2 separate regions of the Homo sapiens genome follow, and region 1 is linked to region 2. The links come from fine-mapping of genetic effects on gene expression. A gene starts in region 2. The other region holds a variant in brackets. All regions are shown on one strand. Distances are from middle to middle.

Region 1 (10,346 bases), 27 kb before region 2:
TGTGTGGTCGTGCTGAGCCCAGGGACAGGGAGCCAGGGAGGGCCATGCTCCACTTGACTGCGGGGTCTTCTTATCTCCCTCCCGCCCTGCATCACTGCAGGGCCAGTGTGGGCGCCCACTGCACCTGCTCCTGCAGCCCCGTCAGTGCGGGGAGCTCTGGGGAGGTGCGCTGGAGCACCAGCTTGGCTGGTGCTGGACACCCCACCCTGGCCATCAGGTCTCTCGGGCCCTGGTCACGCTGGATGGAGAGAACAACAGGTCTGGGATTTCTGTGCTTAAATTCTCTGTCCTTTGTTCTGGCATCAGGCTGGGCTCTCTCAGAAGCCCCCAGAATAGAAAGGAGGGTGATGGTGATTCCTTAGGAGTCGGCCTTGGAGGGACCATCAGCCGTGGGGAGAGGATGGAAGGCCAAGAACAGGGTCTGAGGAGGAGGCTCCTGTGAGGGGAGAGGAGGAATGAGTGAGGTGTCGGCTGAGGGTGGGGCCGGGGAGGGAATGGCCAGGCAGGGCCACCAGGACCTCTGCAAAGCCCAGGCCCCCAGGTCCTGTGGGGGCCTTTCTGAGGGGCAGGTGGGGAAGGTGCTTCCAGTGAGGGCAGTGAGGGCAGGAGGCAGAAGTGAGGCTCGGTACAGATGCATTCTAAGTGGCGCTGGCCAAGGTGACTGAGTGACACCCTGTGGTCCTCTGCGGGCAAACACAATACAGAAGCTATTGCTTAGCTCCAGGGCAAGAGGACAAATGTCTGTCTCAGGCCTCAACCTCTGTTTGGCATAACCTAGAGTAGGGAGTCAGGAGTACCAGCTGCTTTTAAGAGACAGGATAAGATCACAGAAAAGCCCCTGAAAATGCCTGGCTTTGCCAACCACCCAGCACAATTCACTCGTGCCAGTGTGTCACCTTGGAACATTCATTTAGCTTCTCTCAACATCATTTCTTTGCTTCTGAAGTGTAGGTGGATCCTGTGGCCTACTTCCAGAGAGGGCTTTAAAGACTTGAATAAAAATAGCCACACTGATGAGATTTAAGTGCCATGAACTGTTCTAGGTGCTCTCAGCAACCTACTTCACAGATGAAGAAACTGAGGCCCAGAAAAGTCAAGTCAGGTCAAACAGTGAAGAGCAGGGGTCCTGGGAGCTGAGGTGGGCTCTGGGTCCGTGCTGTCACTCTGCGCTACCTCTCACTATGACAGCCGTGGGCTCATTGCTGTGGAGCAGCGAGTCCGTGAGTCCTCACCATGGCCACGTGGTGAAGGAATCCACAGGGGAAGAGGCAGACTTGGGGGGACAGACGCTGGCCAGCGAGAGTCTGAATGGCAGTGCCTTGTGGGGTGCAGGCGTCACTGCCAGCAGAAAAATCAGCAAGATGTTTGGAAGGTGACACCCTCTGAAGAGTCTGGTGGCAGAAGGACCCAGCTGCGTGGGTGAAAGTTAATGCCTGGATACTTTCAGGTGGCCCAGTGGGAAGGGGACTGTGGTGACGACGCCCTCCACTCCTGCCCACATCTGCCCTGTCCTCCACAGTGAAAGCCCAAGAGGAAAAGAATGAGACAGTTGATTCGGCCCAACCTGGTGCCGCCCTGCCCAGTGTGTGGCCCACCCTCGTCATGCCCATACCTGCATCCTGAGGCTCAGATCTCCACCGAGGGGTCAGTGAAGCCCTTCTTGCCCTCATTCACCAGCACTGGCTTCTCTGTCCGTGTGTGCCACACCAGGATCTGTGTGCCCAGAGATGCAAAACATGGTGGGACAGGCCCCTGACCTCACTCTGCTGCCTCCCTGCTCCCTCCCACACTGTGTAAACATTTCTCCTGCCCCTCCTTTTCCTTCGAGAGTTTTTCAATTGTTCCATCAAGATTTTCTCAATTGTTTTTTATTTATTTTCTGTGGCTCTCGACTACCCCCTCATTTTTGCTGTTTTTACATGTGATGCCTTCGGAATACCTGCTGGAAATGGGAAGTCTAGAACTACAGAAAAGAGAAGCCCCAAGACTTCCCAAGTGTGTGTGTGTGCATACGTATGCATGTTCATGTGCATATGTGTATATGTGCATGTCTGTGCATGTTCACCTGCATATATGTGTGCATGTGTGTGCATCTGCATGTGTGTGTGCGCACATGTGTGCACGCGTAGGCATGTGTGTGTGCATGAGTGCTCAGCAGGGAGGTGCTGGAGCACGGCTGTTCTGTGGGAGGTTATAACTCCCCAGTGGCCATTGCTCTCCCTTTCCCTGCCTGTCCGCAGTGTCGCTGCCTTACAGGTGATACACTGCCTTCCTGGGAGGGGGTTCCAGAAAGCCCAGGCTATTTTGAGGCCTCTGTTTCCTTCTCCCGATCTGTAGGGAGGGTCTGGATGTACTTGAGACATTGCATCACAGCTGTCAGTTCTGCGGAGGGTCTCACCTTGGTGCAGTTGGCTGCCTTGGGCTCCAGGTCGTTGAGGGTGACAAGTTCTCGAAGGAGGCTGCTTTCCTGGTAGCCTCCCTTCACACCTCGCAGCTTGAAGTAGGCCTGGCTTCGCTGCAGAATGAGCCGCAGGTTGACGGCAAATCCAGCCATGTCTATTGCAAATGGCCGGTGGGGGTCAAACACCGTCTTCCAGCCGACCACCTTCCCTGCCCCGTTCACCCGTGGGGCCTCGTACCGCAGGCCACCCACGAAGGCGACGGGCCACACGGACACCCTCCTGGTGCTGCGCATCTACAAGGGGGGGGTCCAGAGTCAGGGCGCCGGCACTGCAGATGAGGACGGCCGCGCGTGCCCAAGGGAGGCGACATCCTTCAGCCACCTCTATCTATGCCCATGGCCAGCCGCGGCCACCTAGGGGGTGTCCAGTACAGCCCTGCCCCCAGGACCCATCCCATGGGTTGGGCACCTGAGAAGAACCTGCCCTGGGCTGCCGGGGACACCTGACCTCTCAGACGGCCTGGTCTTCCCCTTCTCAGCGTGGCCCTGCTGCTGTTTTCTCCCTTGTCTAAAACCTTTCAGTCTCCCCGCTCTAGAGTGTGAAGTGACTCCCCTTGTCCCCGAGACTAACACAGCCCATATACTCAGGCGAGCTCCAACTGTTCCACCTAAGAGGTTTCTGGTAGTCACGCAGAATGACCTACTCACAAACCCATTCAGGAGATACCTCTAGGGCCAGGAATATGGTTTAGGGGCTCCAGAGCCACCTGTCTTCCCCCTAACTTGTGGGGGATGCTTTAGCCCGCAGTTCCATCCCTTTCCCTGGCTCTCTGCTGCCTGCCCCGCTCCCAGCCCGGCTTCCCGGGTTCCCCCTGCGCGCGCCTCCGCACCCACACCCCCTTCTCGGGAAGCCCCTCCACTCCCCGCAGCCGGAGGTCCCGCTGCTCACTGTCGGGCCCTCCCTCACCTCTTCGAAGAGCTCCAGGCTGTAGGTGTTGTCGTCGTCGGCGAAGTAGACCACGCCAGGCTGGCTGGAGTTGCGCGGGAAGGTCTCGCGCAGCCAGCGCAGGGCCAGGTTGCGCTGCATGGTGCCCCGCGGGATGCGTGGGTCGCGGGCGTCTCCGCGCAGCTTGTAGTTGCGGGGCGTCTCCACGTGCAGGTGCGTGTAGTTGAGGCCGGTGTCGCGCAGCAGGCGCGCGGTCAGCGGCGTCCGGCGCGGCGCATCCTCCACCACCAGCCAGTGGAGGTTGGGCACGTGCAGCAGCGTGTTGGCCATGCGCGTCAGCTCGGCCTTCTGCACCGGGCGGCTGTAGGTGGGCGTCACCACGTGGATGGTGGGCAGCGTGTCGGACCATGGCGGGGGCCGCGTGTACACGTACTCGGTGCGCACCACCTCCACGATGTCGCGGTCAGACGTGCAGTACTCCCTGGGGTCGGCGCCGGGCGGCGTTTCGCGTCGGGGGTCACTGCCCTCATCTGCGGAGTCGGGAGACCGGCGATGTGGGAGGAGAGCGCCGGCTACGGCCCTGGATTCAGAGCGGGACGCCACCCACCCTGCCAGGGCACCCTCCTCCTCCCCCGCTGCAGGGGCTGCTCAGACCCCCGCCTTGCCTGACCTGTTAGCTCTAAGGTTGAAATCTGCAGCCCTGGAATCCTCTCTGGGAGGGTCCTAGCTCTGATGACACAGACATAACCTCTTCCTTCCCACCTTTGCAGCCCTCTAGCTATTTGAGCGCAGTTGCCCATATTCCAAGATTGCATCCTCAGTTCCTGAATGTGCTGACTTTCCTATGAAAAGGCGTCCCGACCCTCCCCTCCCTAGCCCTACTCATCTGGAGGGAGCTGGCCACACTGCCCTGTGCAGGGCTGGGCTAGCAGAGCACGTGGCACTGCCCCGCTGTGGTGTGGACGCCACAAAGCCCCAGGGCCGCAGCACTGCGGCAGCAACCAGGGCCCACTGTGGGCCCGCAGGAGCCTGAGGCAGCTCCCGGAGTTCTCAAGCCCTCCAGTCAAGCGGGGCCTCTTCCCTCCTGGCCTTACGTAAGGCATTCTCTGAATCTCGGTGCAGAACTTCCTATTTCACCGCATTTTATTCTCGTGGGTTTTGCCCATAGTTGCCAAGGTATATGTAGATCTAGCAGTCCTAGCAAGAGGAGAAATCAGGGCCATTGGGATTCTTGTTTTCCATGCGTCCCTTCTCTCCAAATTCTGTCCTTCCATCGGAAGGGCTCATGCACCAATGACGGTGTGGCCCTCCTGTCCTAGCTTACCGTCGGGTGGTAAAGGTAAGAAATCCCGGTGCCTGGGCTGAGACCCTGCCCACTTCTGCCGTTACGAACCCTGTGCCCTTGAGCAAGCTGCTTAGCTTCTGGCGCCTCAATTTCAGCAACTGTAAAATGGAGCTAATAATAGCATCGAACTTATCGAGTTATTATGTGGATTAATGAGTCCACAAGGGCTGAGAGCACCGCCAGGCACAGTTTCCTCTCTTGCGGAAGGGCAGTGGCCAACTCTGCTTCCTTCTGGCTTCAGGCAATCGGTGGGGACAGAACCAGCAAGTCACACCAAAGGGGAGGACCCCGGGCATCAGCTCTTCTGCTGCCTCCCTCCGGCCACTGTCATCGGCAGCATGTGGGGTGTGTGGCACGCTAGCGTGGAGCTCATCTGAACGGACCCAGGAGGCCTGCTCGTGGCTCTTCAGGAGTTCTCATGGGCAAATGGCACCAGGCACACAGCAATTGCTGAGGGTCGGGGGAGGAAACCAGCACACACGCAGTCGCTCAGAGGGGGCTGCTTAGAGGAGTCTGGGGTCAAACTGTGAGAAGAGCAACGTGGAAGAAAGCGGGATGGGTGTCTAGGGTTCTGACCTAGACAGAGGACTTAATTCATCCTATGGGCAGTCAAGTTTTGGAAACTGAGGCCTTGAGAGGAAGTTTGGAGCCACTTTGTCCACCTCTCTGCCACCCAAATCATCCCAAGGCCGCAGAGGACCTGTGCCCTTGGACAGTCCCCATACATTAGGGCACGGCTACTGCGTGTGCTCCTGGGCTTCGCCCTTCCCATTGGCTTCAGGGCGTCTGCAATTTTGGGTCCTAAAGGCCTCCTGGTGACCCTAACTTCACTCAGCTGCAGCTTTCATTCGCTTGCTCTTGGCATGCTCTGGGGAGACAGAATGCCAAGTCCCCAGCCTCAGGCAGCACCATCAGTGCTTAGCAAACAGCCTGACGTCTCCAGCGCTGGAGCTCTGCCAAGAACGCAATCGACACGATATCATGTCGCTTTATATATAGTAGTTTTAACCCCTCTGGAGTGATGTATTTGCAAGATAACAATGATTCTGAACTGACAAGCACAGAGAAGAGGCCCTAGGGT[C/T]GGGAGGAGAGGATGATGTCAGGAAGACAGGCGCCAAGTGCCAGCCACGGGCAGTGGGCTGCCGCAATGTTGAGCTTGGCCCTTCCTCATGGAAGCTTCAGGAACAGCTATGGGTTTGCAGGACTTGGTATTTGACTGTGAGGAGCAGCACGACTTCAGGCTGTGATTTTTGGACACTGCCTGCATCTTGGGGTTACAGGCACTCACCACCTCTCTCTGCATGGGCTTGGTGCTGCCTTCTTGTTTATCACACTGCCAGGTGGTATCATGCACGCTGCAAACGAACAGCTGCCTGACCCCACGTGAGCCTGTGCATGTAAGTGGGGGAGGGGGCAGAAAAGCACGAGACAAAGTGCTGAAGAGCTGGGGCAGCCAGCTGTGGGGTGCGTGGCAGGTTTGGGAGTGAGAGGGAAAGGCGACCCAGGACCCAGAGCCAGGGGAAAGGAGTTCTACCCCTAGTTCTTCCACTAGTTCTTCACGGGACTTTTCCTCTCTCCAGCCCTATTTCCACCAGGTAGCACTAGATCAGGGTTTCCTACACAGGAAAAGAAGAGAGGCAAACAATATACTCTCTGTGAAAGGGTTTAAAACACACTGCAGGCCAGAAATCCTATTCCTCCCCCACCATCCACTTCAGAATGGTCGCTTTCCTTGCATGTCATGAAATGGCATGTGAAGTTGTACATGCGTGTCTTTCTGTGTATGTGTGTGTATTAATGATGTTTGTTTTTTAAGTTTTTCTGTATTTTAAGATGCGTCGACATCTTGGGGGACTTGCAGATATGGGGAGGGACTGCCCCTCCCGGGACTAGCTAATTCCTAGTGACAGTACACACCTTGCCTGCAAACACACTTTTCATATGCAAACTACCTGATCTAGAGCTCATACCCACTACCACCTTTATGGAGCTCTCCCACCCAAGCCAATCTTCCGCTGCCCTAAACCACCCCAGGGCGATACCAGACAATTAGAAACCACACCCATATCCTAAACCCACTGACTTTCTTCAGACTATGCAATTCTGGGCCAGCTCAGCTGCCGACAGTGCTTCGCCCTTCCCTTCCTATGAAAACCACTTTCCTTCCTACCAAAACCACACTAAAGACTCCCACTCCCTCCACTTCCCACCTCCCCCTCCCTTCACTTCCCACCTCCGACCTCAGCACTTCCCCAGGGGGCAGGGCGTGCCCCCTCCTCTTGGGTGCTGAGAGTAACAAGCTCTTCTTTCAAGGCAACTGTCTTGGTGTCTGCCAACCTACCATCCCAGGCATCTTAAAACTGTGTGGGTAGCTTCCATTAGCTTCCCATTCCCAAAGGGGTGCAAGACTCATGAAGGGGCCTAGATGATCCCGTGGTTCCTCCTAGCTGCTAAGTGAGTGCAAGCAAGAACCCTGCGTGTCAGCTGTGGTCACTGTCACTACCAAGGCCCAGCTGGGCAGGCAGGGCATGCGTGCGTGCTCACCCTTATGTACCGCGAGCAGGGGTGCGAGGGTGCTCTGGTGCCAGACAGTGATGAGCAGAGTCCAGGGCAGCACGATGAGGACGATCGCTAGGATGTCCCGTCTCTTCGGCATCTCCAAGGCTGGCTGCACCCACGGCTCCTCATTACCTGAGTGGCGGTAAGTTCAGGAGAGGGGCGGCCACGGGCGGCGGCAGCACAGGGGAGAAAAGAACAGGCATGGGCCGGGCCGGCCAGGCATGGAGAGGACAGAGCAGCTGAATGTTGGCTAGCAGGTCTTACCAGCACTCACAACCCACCCATTGCGGAAGCAGGTTTGGAGAGTCCGGCCCAACTGGAGTCTGAGAAGGGGTCGCTGTCCAGGGGCAGGGGTCAGGAACCCTGGGGGGTGGACACCTGCAAGAGAGAGCAGAAGCGGATAGCCAGAGACCCAGGTATAGGAATGGATGCCAGCAAGGCTGGGCCCTGCTCTGGGACACACAGCATCGGGGGTTCCACAATGGAGCCTCAACTGTCCATCACCTGAGGACCTCTTTTGTCTGCCTGTTAGAGTGGAATGGGCTCTGTCCTTCCCACAGGCACAGGGCCATGGCTCTGCTCCATTTATGAAAGTCAGTAGGGTGCAGGGGTCAGAAGCACAGACTGCAGAGACACCAGGTTTAAATCCCAACTGTGCCACCCACAGGCTGTAAGACCTTTGCCAAGTCATTTCCGTTCTCCATGCCACAGTTTTCCCATCTATAAAATGGGGCACTGTGGATCCCTACCTCATAAGGTCATTCTCAGAATTAAACAGGGTAACTCCCGTGCAGCCCTAAAATGCCAGCTACTTATCAAAGCCTGGATAAAGGGGTGAGAGGTTTTATTTTCTCTCTCTCTTTTTTCTTTTTTTTAACCATATATGGACCACGAATTATTATATTAAAAATAATTTCAACATTTTAGATTTGGGGGCACATGTGCAGGTTTGTTATGGGTCATATTGCATGTGATGCTGAGATCTGGAGTATGATGAATCCCGCTGCCCAGGTATGAGCATAGTACCCAACAGGGCGTTTTTCAGCCGTTCTTCCTTTGAGAGTCCTCAGTGTGTATTCTTCTCATGTTTACAGTCATGAGTACCCAGTGTTTAGCTCTCACTCATAAGTGAGAATGCATCGTGTTTGGTTTTCTGTTCCTGTGTCAATTTGCTCAGGATAATGGCCTCCAGCTGCATCCAGGCTGCTGCAAAGGCCATGATTTTGTCCTTTTTTATGGCTGTGTAGTATTCCTTGCTGTATATGCACCATGTTTTCTTTACCCAGTTCACCACTGATGGGCACCTAGATTGATTCCATGCCTTTGCTATTGGGAATAGTGCTGCGATGAACATACAGGTGCAGGTGTTTTTTTTGTGAAACACTTTATTTTCCTTTGGATACATACCCAGTAATGGGACTGCTGGCTAGAATGGCAGCTCTGTTTTAAGTTCTTGAGAGATCTCCAAATTGCTTTCCATAGTGGCTGAACTAATTTACATTCCCACCAACAGAGTATACGTGTTGCCTTTTCTCTGCAGCCTCATCAGCATCTAATATTTTTTGGCTTTTTAGTAATAGCCATTCTGACTGGTGTGAGATAGTATCTCACTGTGGTTTCAATTTGCATTTTGGTGACAGTCTTTTGAGGACAAAGAAGAGATGTTTCTGGGATGGTCCCTGGGGGGAAGTACGAGAGTGCCTTCCTCTTCCGTGTCAATAGGACATCCTTGTGGAGCACCGCTCTGTGCAGGACAGAGCACCAGGTGCTGGGCTGGGCAGCAGCAAGAAGAGGGGTCCCCGCAGGGGCTGCCACATTGAGGGGAGACAGTCCTCCAAAATGAGAACAGCAGGGGGCCCAAGTGAGGAGAATGAGCCACTGGGATTCCTCAGTCCTGCAGAGGGTCCACTGGTAGCATCTCTGGGAACCGTTCTCTCACATGGCAAGGACACTGGGCGAAGAGACCTCCTGACCGCCTTGGAAACTGTCACATCCTCTTCTCCTCCCTTTTCACTTCTGTGCTGAGCACCATGCATGATGCAGCAGGGACCCGTGGGGGTGGTGGGGAGGGCAGGCAGCCTCGGGCAGCCCAGCCAGCCTCACTGTGCCCACCCGTCCCAGTGCCCAGTGTTGGATACGGACAGTACCTCACCTGGGGGCCATGCTGCCTGCTCCTGCCCCAGCTCACGTGTGCTCACCATTTCAGGCAGAGTCGAGTGCTATGGCCGAGGAGGGTTTTTAGCCCCTGAGTTTCCAAAATAGCGTGTTTTCCTCTCCTCACCGGGTCCTCTCTCCAAATAGTTCTGACGCCTGTGGAAGACCAGGATTTGTCTTCCATTAAGGAGCACTGTGGTTTCCCGGGACGGCCGGCATCCCCTCCATTAAGGAGCACTGTGGTTTCCCAGGACGGCCGGCATCCCCTGCCCACACCCCGCCATCAGAGGCCCACTCCATCCAGAGAGTCTCCCCCACCCATTCCCCGGGGAGTGGAAGACCCACTGGGGTTCAACGTCACAGGCACGTAGTTCCCCTAGTGGACATTCTAGGCCGTGTGTGTCTGTGTCCGCCCGTAAACTCCTCTTTGCTGGCCCAGTGAGGGACAGAGCCTAGAACCCCACACGGGATGCCTGCTGGGTCTTGTGGTCTGAGATGCAAGTGACTTCATGCCACATCCCCCAGATTTAGCCTGTCCCTCCACACCCAGGCCACTGCTGGGGCTGCATGGGGCTGCGTGTCAAGACACGTTTTGGTTCTTTGGCCAAGACACGTTTGGATCTTAGGCCACATCTGATGAAGGATGGGGAGGCTGGGCCTGGCTGGGGCTTCAGAAATGTCCAGGAAGATTTCTTCTGTGTTCTCAGAGACTCTCGAAGGAGCTTTCTCAAGTGCTCCTGGTGTTGGTGCAGGTTCTAATACCAGGATGGAGAAAGCCAAGGAGAGAAGATGAGTGTCCTGCCAGCTCAGTCCCTGTGGGCCACTGCCTTTCCTTTGGGGCAGCCTCTCAGCCCCCGCTTGCACTGTTGTTTATACAAACTTCCCTATAGCATGAGAGATGTCCGAAGATGAGGCTCAGCTCTTCACATGCACCTGCTCCT
Region 2 (10,346 bases):
TTCTGTATCTGTACCGCCCAAGATGGCAGCCTCTAGCCACATGTGGCTGTTGCCCACTTGAAATGTGGCTGGTGTGACTGAGGAGCTGCTCAGGGTGGGGACGGATGCAGCCCCCCATGCCCAGTGTGGGGCTCTAACAGTTTCTGAACAATGGACAAATGAGTAGCCCAGGGTTCAAAGAGAGACTCATGGCCTCAGAGGCCAGATTGCTCACCTGCCACAGACAGAGGAAGCAAGATGGGCAGAGGGGAAGGAGAGGACCCCAGCCCACATAGCCAGCCAGAGAGGACGGGCAGAGCCAGGCCTCCAACTACAGTGCCATTGGCACTCCCCACGCCGTGCCGTCATGTCTCCACTCCCCCATCCCTCTAGGTCTTCTTCCTGTGAGCAGAGAGCTGGCTCACATTTCCCACGTATGAGAAGAGAGAGCTCCTGCCATGGCTCAGAAGACTGAGCCGTGGAATCCACAGCCCCCTGGGCAAGGTTAGTCCTCAAATCCAGTCAACTCTTGATCCAGACTCATACTCTCCACTTTTGCGCTTATCAGAGGTAAAGCCTTAATCCCTGCCAGGCACTTGGCGCGGAGGCTGCCTCCTGCCCTGCTGTCAGCTGGTGTGTGCGCAGGGAGCGCAGGCTCATTTTAATATTGGCTGGAGCTAAACCTCATTAGAAAAGTAAATTTGCTGTAGCTGCAAAAAAAAAAAAAGCAACCCACATAACCCTTCCAAAGCTAAACAGAAAACACTAGATTTGGACTTTTGGATTATTTGATGTTTCACGTTCCCAGCACCTGGTGCAGAGCCTCCAACACCGTAAGTGCTTGGTCAGTGTTGGTGCAAGTGAACTGAATTTTGGGGGCTCTCTGACCACCCTGTCACCTTTCAGCATGGATAAGAAGGGCTCACAGATCTGGAATTTTGGTGTCAAGATTTTTTTTTTTAGACGACCATTTGCTGATAAATTGGAAGGATTACATTTAACAATAATTAGACACGAAAGTATTATTTTGTGTTTGGCAAGGACGAACTCTGAGCCAAGGCGGGCTCTGGGTTCTTTGGGTTGGGATAAGGAAGGGTGGGTCCAGCCCAGAGTCTGGAGGTGTGAGGACTCAAGCGGGTGAGGAGGGAGGTGGGACAGCCTGCACCGATTCCAGTGGGGTGAGGAGGGAGGTGGGACAGCCTGCACCTATTCTAGTGGGGTGAAGAGGGAGGTGGGACAGCCTGCACCGATTCCAGTGGGGTGAGGAGGGAGGTGGGACAGCCTGCACCGATTCCAGTGGGGTGAGGAGGGAGGTGGGACAGCCTGCACCGATTCCAGTGGGGTGAGGAGGGAGGTGGGACAGCCTCCACCGATTCCAGTGGGGTGAGGAGGGAGGTGGGACAGCCTGCACCGACTCCAGTGGGGTGAGGAGGGAGGTGGGACAGCCTGCACCGATTCCAGTGGGGTGAGGAGGGAGGTGGGACAGCCTGCACCGATTCCAGTGGGGTGAGGAGGGAGGTGGGATAGCCTGCACCTATTCCAGTGGGGTGAGGAGGGAGGTGGGACAGCCTGCACCTATTCCAGTGGGGTGAGGAGGGAGGTGGGACAGCCTGCACCGATTCCAGTGGGGTGAGGAGGGAGGTGGGATAGCCTGCACCTATTCCAGTGGGGTGAGGAGGGAGGTGGGACAGCCTGCACCGATTCCAGTGGGGTGAGGAGGGAGGTGGGACAGCCTGCACCTATTCCAGTGGGGTGAGGAGGGAGGTGGGACAGCCTGCACCGACTCCAGTGGGGTGAGGAGGGAGGTGGGACAGCCTGCACCTATTCCAGTGGGGTGAGGAGGGAGGTGGGACAGCCTGCACCGATTCCAGTGGGGTGAGGAGGGAGGTGGGATAGCCTCCACCTATTCCAGTGGGGTGAGGAGGGAGGTGGGACAGCCTGCACCGATTCCAGTGGGATTGGCTCCAGGGCTGGCCTGACGCTGCTACTCCAAATTCTAGAGCCATCCTCATCCTGGAAGCAAGGGGGTGAGGGTGTATAAAATAAATAGATTAAATTAAAATTCATCTAGTATTTCTTCTAAAAACTGGTGAGATGACAGTTTCCCAATTTATAGACTGCCAGGAAGCCGGGGCTTAGAGAGCTCTGTTTTTTTCAAAGTCTACTCGGCTAGCCACAGATGGAGATGAGACTGGACCTCAGACAGCCTGGCCAAGGGCCTGTCCCCACTGCACTTCTTCCATGTCCCCTGGCTAGTCTTCAGTAGGGTCCCCAAAGGTCTTTTTGCCTGGGGGCCTGGGGAGGGGGTGCATGACTTCTCTTCTTCTCCTGAGTGCCAGGTTTCCCCAGACCCCACATCCTTCCCCACTGCCCTGCATTCCAGGACCAGGAGGGCTGGGGCAGGGCCAGAAGATGGAGAGGAGCCCTCAGCATTGTGAGATGCTCAGGGGTGAAGGGTGTCCCTGAAAGTCCCTGCAAGCTCTTGATGTGCTTGACCTCATAGCCTGGCCTCCCTCTGCCTTTGGGCTTCTGTCTAAAAGACCCTCACATTCCTGAGAGCCACAGGAAAGCACCTTCCTCAGTAGAATGTCCAACTGCTCTAGTGAGGGGCCTCCTGCAGGGGTGGACAATTGCTGAGGTCGATGTAGGGGAACAGGGGGAGGCCCCCAGCCTGCCCCAACTCACCACTCAGTCAGGGAGGCCCTGACTTCTGCCTGTGTGCCTCCCTCTGCTGTCCGCCAGTGCGCCTCCGTGCCTTTGTCTCTTGTCTCACTGCCTCTTTCTCTGCCTCAGTCAGGCTCTCTCTCGGATTCCTCCTCCTCCTGAGCCCGTTCCTCTCCTCCTCTCCATTCTCATCAGAGAGGAACACTCATCCCTCTCTTCCAGAAACAATGGAGCACCATGCTCCTGTCCGCTCAGCCTTTCGGTTGGTGCATCCTCTTCCCCATCTCACACTCCCAGCTCCTGGCCGGCCTCATCACCCTGTGCTCCACACCTAGGAAAAGTATATCTGACTTGGTCCCCTTATCCCCGAGAAACCACTAAGAGAACCTTCAGGTCTCCCCAGAAGCCGAAGCTGAGGAACTGGGCTTGCCCCAGGGCATCCTCCTGTGAAGCTCCTTGGTCTCCGCCACGGGCTCCAATCCTGTTGCTGGAGCTTATCTCCTCAGTGATTTACCTGCCCCCTGCTTCTGGTGGAACAGTGAGTAACTGCCCAACCAGAAACCTACACACACATATTCAACACAGCGCCTGCAAGCTTCCAGCTCACCTGGACCTGGAGTGATCCCCAAGCATCCTGGGGTCAGGCACAGAAACAGGAACAGCGAGCTCCTGGCTCCAGTGCTGAATGGGGCACAGATGCATTAACTCTCCCAGTCCCATTAACCTTAGCAAGTATTTCTGCTTCCATGAAAAGGGGAAGAGGGAAAATGTCTCTAAGCTCTGGAACCTTTGGCAGTGCTGGGCATGGACTGGGCAGAGTGAGAAGTCTGTCTGAAGACCCTGGGAAAGGGTCTTCACCCCATGGGAAGAAAGGGAAGGCTTGATGTTTGGTCCAGTAAGGCCATTAATGGTCACCAACTGAGCAGACTCTGGGAGGAAATGTCTCAGTCTCTGCAGTGGCTACCAGCAGAGGTAGGGCGACATAAGCACAGAAGACAAATCTTAGAAAACCCTAGAACAACAGTCCTGTGCAGCCACATGCCCCACAGCCCTAGTAACTTAGGGAGTGATGTGCCTCCCATTTCCACACAAACACATCCAGGCATTGCACAGTGCTAGGCCCTACGACATCCGTACCCCAACATTTTCAACAGTGCGTGCTACACAGCCCAAGCTCTAGGCCCCATTGGGCACCCCACCTATGCAGGTGCCCATGCACTGGGCTAGCAACTGTCAGTAAAGGTCCCCTTCCTGTATGTCCAGAGTCCTTCAGCTCCAGCTTCTACAAGAATCCATGCAGCTAGGCCTGGCTGGGGGAGGAAGGGGACAGGGAAGTTGGCCAAGGCTCCCATGTGTGTGCATGTGGGGGTGGTTCTTGACCTTAGCTGCTTGGTACGGGGCTGTCACCTCCTTACCCTGGCACTGTCGGACCTGGTGGCTTCCTTCTCTATTTCCTGCCTCAACTCTCAGCCTCCTTTTTCTGGAAGTTGTGTGCTCTGACTTTGGAGGGATTGGGACCTCAGACCTGAGCCCAGGTGCAGATGGGAGGGTGGTGAACTGGTCGCGCCTCCTTCCTCCTTGCTACACCGAAGGTCCCAAGGGCCCTTTGCCACCCTTGCTACCCCTGGGTCCCTCAGCGCGCCCCGCAGAGCTCGGGCCCCCTCAAGAGAGTTAACTTGGCAGTGCCCAGGAGCCAGAGAGCGATCCAGAGAGCGCTGTTGGGCAGCAGGGGTGGGGAGGTGGGGGACGACTGACCCCTGACTCCTCATCCGGCCACCAGAAACCACCTGCTGAGGGGGCCGGGAACTGACGACTGAGAGCCCGGGCCGATTGTTAGAAGCTGCTGAGAACCAGCTCTTCCCCTAATCCCGGTCGACGAGGGCAGGCTGTGCCGGGTTTTGTTTCGCAGCCCCTCGGCAGCAGCGCCTCCCAGCCCGAGCTCGGTTCTCGGCCCCCTTTCCAGCTGCCCCCAGCGCGCGCAGCGCACACACACACACACACACACACACACACACACACCCCAGCGCGCGCCCGGGAGGACATGGCGTGGGCACCGATGGGGACGCAGAAAGGGGCTCTGTGCGCGGCGGGGCGCCCGCGGGGGCGCGGGGAGCACTGACCTGCGGCGACGAGTCCGGAGCGTCTCCGGTGCGGTCCATCGCGGGCAACGGCCCCTACGCCCCGGCCCCGGCGCCCCTAGACCGCTGCCCTGGGCCGCGTGCGGCTCCCTCCCCGGGGACTGTCGGGCTCCGGGCCCCCGGGGGCCACTTCATAGCCGCGGGGTCCGCGCGCCCGCCCGCCCCGCCCGGCCCCGCCGCCCCGGCCCGGCTCGTTCTGGGCTCAGCGAGGCGGCGGCCGAAGGCTGGGAGCGCGCGGGAGGGAGGGCGCGGGCAGGGAGGCGGGGGGCGGGGGGCGGGGAGGGGGAGCGGGGAGGGGGAGCGGGGAGCGGGCGCGGGGGCGAGAGGGGCGAGGGGGGCGCGCGGCCGGAGCCGAGCCGACCGGGCCGGCGCAGAGTCCCCGAGGTGGCGGCGGATGCGCCGGTGCCGCCGCGGCTCTGCCGGCGCCTCCCGCCCCGCCCCCACCCGCTCTCCGCCCCCGCCCCGCCCCCGCCCCGAGCCCGCGCCAGCGCCGGCGGGACCCGAGCTGCTAATGGTCGGTACCAACCTCGCCAGCCTAGGCGGGGGCGCGAGGAGGGAGGCCGGCGAGGGGACCCCCCCCCGGGATTGGTATCACCTCCCCACCGCCCCCCACCCTCCCCCGGCACCGTCCCCCGCGGAGGCGGCTCCCGCTTCAGGCGGCGGAGCAGGGGTGGCGGGCAGGGGCCGAGCGCACCCCCAGATCTCGGCTCTCGAGAGTTAAAGCTCGGCCCCCGCCTGCACCCCCATTCCACCCCGCCTCCATCCTGGCTGCTCCTGGCGCCCAGCTTGGCAGCCTCTCTCAAAGGGTGATTGTTTCCGGCCGGGCTGCTGCAGGAGGGCGGGGGGCGGCGCTCTGGGACCGAGAGGCCGAGCTGGGAAGCCGGTGGGGGATGCGGCTCCTTCCTTGGCTCCAGGCACCCCGGATGGGAGGTGGCCGGTGGGGGCGGACGGTGCCGTGCCGGGGTACGGGGTCTGCTGCCCCGTGGAAGGGCACCTCGAGCCGCCGCGCGTCAGCCTCACCCCAGCCTCCCCTTCCGGGCCGGTGCACCCGGCGTTCCGGAGAGAGGCCCGGGAGGCCTGCGTGGGCGGACGGGCGCGGGGAGGCCGGGGGCAGCGGGATCTCCAGGAGTTTCCCGGGCCTCTGCCGCGGTGTGTTGGTCGGCGGGGGACGGAGGCCAGTGAGTGGGCGCGCACTTGGACGTATGTGGGTGCACTGGTAGGGTGCCTCTGTGGAGCTGTATATTCCAGATACTCCTTCAGCTTGTCGGAGACTTTGAAGCCATCCTTGCACTCGTTTTAGAGGTTGGCATCTCCCGGTGCTCTTGGACACCTGTATTCGGGCCACACCCGCTGTGTCCTCTTCACAGCCCCAGGAGAAGGCCACCTCCCATGGCGGGGTTCGCGGCGGGACCAGGGACTGTCGGTACTTTCTCTAGGGTCTCCCTCCTTCCCGGGAAACCAGTTCCAGCCCCACTGCTAGGCACTGCTTAACCAGAGCTGTGCCCCCGTGCTATGGGCTGGGGCTGAGGACCACGGGCCTCTTTTCCATCAGCTTTCCTGCCCTGTTAGGACCAAGCCGGGCCCTGCTCTTCCCACTGAGGATGTGCAGGTGGGGAGGGGGCAGAGACTCCAGAATCAGCCCCTTTGGTCAAGATTTTGAGGGGAGGAAGGCACCTCACCGTCCGTATCATGCCACAGACATGTGAAAGTGTCCTTAGTGACTATCTCTAGGGATAACTGCTCCTCCTTGTCGTGCGCTCTTTCATTGTTGTGCTTAACAGCCCCCTTTGCCGGCAAGAAACTTCCTCTGAATCTAACCTCAGTACCTCCTGCTGCGGTACAGGAGCATTTCCCCCTTCTCTTAATGAGTGGAATCCCAGCCAGCCTTGCTCCGCCTTCTTCTGCCCCTACTACAACCCTCTCTTTTAGACTCTGCTAAGAGACCTTTCCTAAGTCGGTGTTCTCTGGTATTTTCCTAGTCTCCATACTCTGCTTCTCCTTAGACTCCACACCAGCTGAAGGGAGGGGAAGGGCAGGTGCAGAAGCAGGATGGGCGGGGGTACCAGAGAGCACCAAGGAGGGGCCAGGCCGTCCAGGAGGGCACATTGCCTCCCTCCTCTGCTAAGCCAGCCAGCCGCAGTCACACAATCACCAAATGGGAGGACAGAAATGACCGTGAAGACTGTCTCGTTCCAGACCCTCATTTTACCAACAGGGAAACACACCCATGAGGGGTGATCTCAAGAGAGCTCAGGGACATGGCGACGAGGAGGCCTGGGTTTCAGGCCGATTCTGAAGGCACTAGCAAAAGACTTCCCCTCAGGGCTGGTTTCAGTAATGAAACAGAGGGTTGGACTAAGTGGGCTGTGGTCCGACTTGTCCTGCTGGGCTGTGGCTCGGAGATGCTGTCTGCAGGGGTTCTCGGCTTTACCTCAGCATTCTGGCAGGAACAATTGTGATAATAAAGCCGCTTTCAAGGGACCTGTCTTGCATCTTAGTTCCAGGCTCTGTTTACAGAATTTTTAGTATTAATTTTTAGAGCCAATTTAAAACAATAATAGGAGATTAAAATTAGCATGATAAGGCTCAGTGAAGAGACAACAGCCTGCCATTCGTTTTGGTGGGAAGTTTTGGCAACATCCCAAGTGTATGGACACACACAAATGTACTGACATCTACGCAGGCACAAAACATGCTCATAGAGGCAGCTACACATGCAGATTCACCCACATGAACACACACACACACTCTGAAATACATCATGTGCACATGTAAACGCTTGCACACGGATGTACCTGAAGCACCTGCACCCACACAGACACACGTGTACACACACCATCCCCCGGGTCAGCCACACTCCCACCCCTGTCTTCCTGCTTGGCCTCTGCAGGACTGTGGAAATCCTTCCCTCCCATGTCTGGACTTGGTGCATCCTCACAGCTTGACCCTTGCTCCAAACATCTGGAGCACCTCTAAGGTCTCCCTGAATGATTGATCTTCCCCTCCCCCTGCCTTCCCTGCCAGTAGTGAGCCCCTCTTCTCAGAGGCCCCCAAAGCCTAGCACCAGCATGTTTAGTATGCAAAGCCCGGGTTTGTCCTCTGGGACAAACCGTTATGTGTTTATTGTGTAGTTAAGCAGGACGGGAGCCCTGCCCCCGCTCTGATCCTGGCCCACTTCCCATAATCTGAATCCCAGAAGAGTCCTGTAAAACCGTCATCTGCAATGCAAAACCTGCAAAACATCTGGGATGGTCTGTAGGTTTTCTCCAAATCACCTGTGCCCTAATTTAATATGAATAACAATTAGTTTACTCTTATCAGTTAATTGTTCCCCTCGTGGGTTCTGTCTGCCCTGGCCTCTCTTTCAGCAGGAGTTTTGGTCTGCTCCAGACTCCTAATGATACTGCCTTTTCAGCCGTGCCGTCCTTCTTAGCTACCACCCAAGAGAGGCAACGCAGCTGCGCTGCTTGCCGCCCTGGCCTGTGGGGCCCAGGCCCTCACCCCACCCGTCTTAGCCAGTCTGATTGTTGGGGGCCATCCAATCTCCCCTTGCCTTCACCAGGAATCTATAGCAGTGATTTTGCTGATGTGAGTGGAAAGGTCCCAGTGGGATTCTTCAGTGAGGAATCCCACCCCACAAGGTGCCCGTCCTCTCCCGTCATTGCCCTGGCAAGGGTGACAGCACATGCACATGCATGGGCACACCCAGATGCTGCCAGAGAGCAGGGGGAGTGAGAGGAGGAAGAGCTGCCCTCTGCCTCGGCAGGCAGGGTGAGCTCCCCAGGGACCCAGCCATGCTATCAGGCGTGTCTGAACTGTTCCCACAGTGGCTCCTGGACGGATGTGTGTGGATGTGCTGTTTTGGGTGGTGGAGTTCATGGCCCAGATACAGAAAGAGGAGGAGACCTTTTAACTCTTCCCTTTCATTAGGTTTCTGGTCTGAGCTTTGGATCTTGAACACCCTTGTTTGTCCATAAAAAATTGAAAATGGTCATGTGGTCAACAGGTTTCCCTCTGCCCTCCTCTCTTCTCAGAAGCCAGGCCGGCATCTTTCCTGAGCTGGTGCAAAAAGGCTGACTCCTGCTTCTCTCCAGTCTCTGCCTCCAGGGAAAGGGTGCAGTTACATGGCTTTAGAACACTTCAGTCATGTCATTTTGTTTTGCCTTCTTTCCTCTGTGGCTGAGGGAGGGATGAGAGGTGATAGGAGCAGAGCCCTCAGACTTAGGGGAGCATCTCTGAGGCTAACCTGGGACCGTTCTTTGTCCTCTTGCAGAAGTGAAAATAACCCAGATTGCCTTTTGACCTCCCCACTATCCCCTAACTACTCTGCAGAGCCCACACCTCCAAAGTCTCACTGAAGCCTTTCCCAACCTGAGCTCTGTGGCTTGTGCTGTCTCCTATAGCCCTCCCGACCCTCAGGCACCTCTGGCAGTGAACTGCTCTTCCCCTCAGTCCCATAGCACTTTATCCGGACACATCTGGAGGCTCTTACCCATCTGTGCATGCTTTCCTGTGTTCAGCTAATATTTACTGAGCTCCAGTCATATGCCAGGCACTGTGCTGGGCACCAGAGACATGCAGTAAACAACAGCAATTAGGAGTGTTAACTTCAATTAGGCCATTTATATGTATGCACCAGGTTAGGTTCCAAGTCTTCATGCACGTTAGCTAATTTCATATGTAAGGTGTTATTTACAAGGTACTGTTTGTGACAAGTTTCGATTATAGTTTCCATTTATAGGTCAGGAATCTGGGGCGTAGTATTTAGGTAATTTAATTAAGGTCACATGCCTAGTAAGTGACATAGCCAGCATTTGAGGCAGGCAGCCTAGTTCCAGGACTCAGGCTCATCGTCAGAGCACAACTCAGGGATTATATGCTAGTGGTCCATAGATGGGCAAATGCACAGAACAAACAGAGGTGGAGGAGATACAGGAAGGGAAGAAATAGGGTCAAGAGCTGGAGAGAGTCCTGGGAGGGTAGGATCAGGGAGAGGCTCTTTGAAGAGGCCATGTTTGAGCCAAAACCCGGGGGAATATTGGCCCAGCAAGGAGGACAGCGATAGGCGACCTGAGGGGTTTGCGGGAGGCTTGGTGTGCTTGAGGAACACGTGCAGCAGGTGAGGCTGGAGAGTGGAGAGAGAGGAGAGAGCCATGGGGAGCGGAAAGGACACTCTCTGCTTGGAGTTTGAGGATTCATGTGCGTGAGTGACCTCCTGCACTAGCGTCTTCCAGAGAGTGGCTGTTCAATAAATATGATGGATGGAGTCGTCTAATTTCCTGCCCAAACTCCCCTCCGTGGCTTGGGTGATGGGCAGACATCCTAGACCTTTGGGTATTAGTAGAGCATCTGCAGAAAGGACTCCTTACCCTTTCCTTTTGGGATTTGGAAGAAAGAAAAAAGGTGCTAGGAGTCCTGCCACATGGATGTGCTGATTCCATTTATTCATTCATCAAAATTCTGAGCAGCTCCGATGGCCAGGAATTTTGATAGGTGTGGGAAAGACAGAAATGAAGGGCCAGCTCCTGCTTATGGTCCCATGGTTTTCTCCAGCCTGAGGTTTCA

What was found. PIP is the estimated chance that this variant, and not a neighbour inherited with it, causes the effect.
Region 1: its variant is fine-mapped to the expression of B3GAT1 in whole blood (TOPMed, PIP 0.94).

Annotation. Positions count from the first base shown.
Region 1 is chr11:134,380,312-134,390,657 of GRCh38, forward strand. It overlaps B3GAT1 (beta-1,3-glucuronyltransferase 1), which reads right to left. Exons shown (of 6, transcript NM_054025.3): 2 at 7,237-7,629; 3 at 3,369-3,877; 4 at 2,399-2,695; 5 at 1,613-1,713; 6 at 1-436. The coding sequence starts at 7,348. The coding sequence ends at 1,627. Among named protein-coding and RNA genes, the nearest start is that of B3GAT1, 27 kb to the right of the region's middle. The variant C/T (reference allele first, on the strand shown) is at 5,774.
Region 2 is chr11:134,407,044-134,417,389 of GRCh38, forward strand. It overlaps B3GAT1 (beta-1,3-glucuronyltransferase 1), which reads right to left and starts at 5,199. Exons shown (of 6, transcript NM_054025.3): 1 at 4,764-5,199. RefSeq lists an enhancer at 3,788-4,347.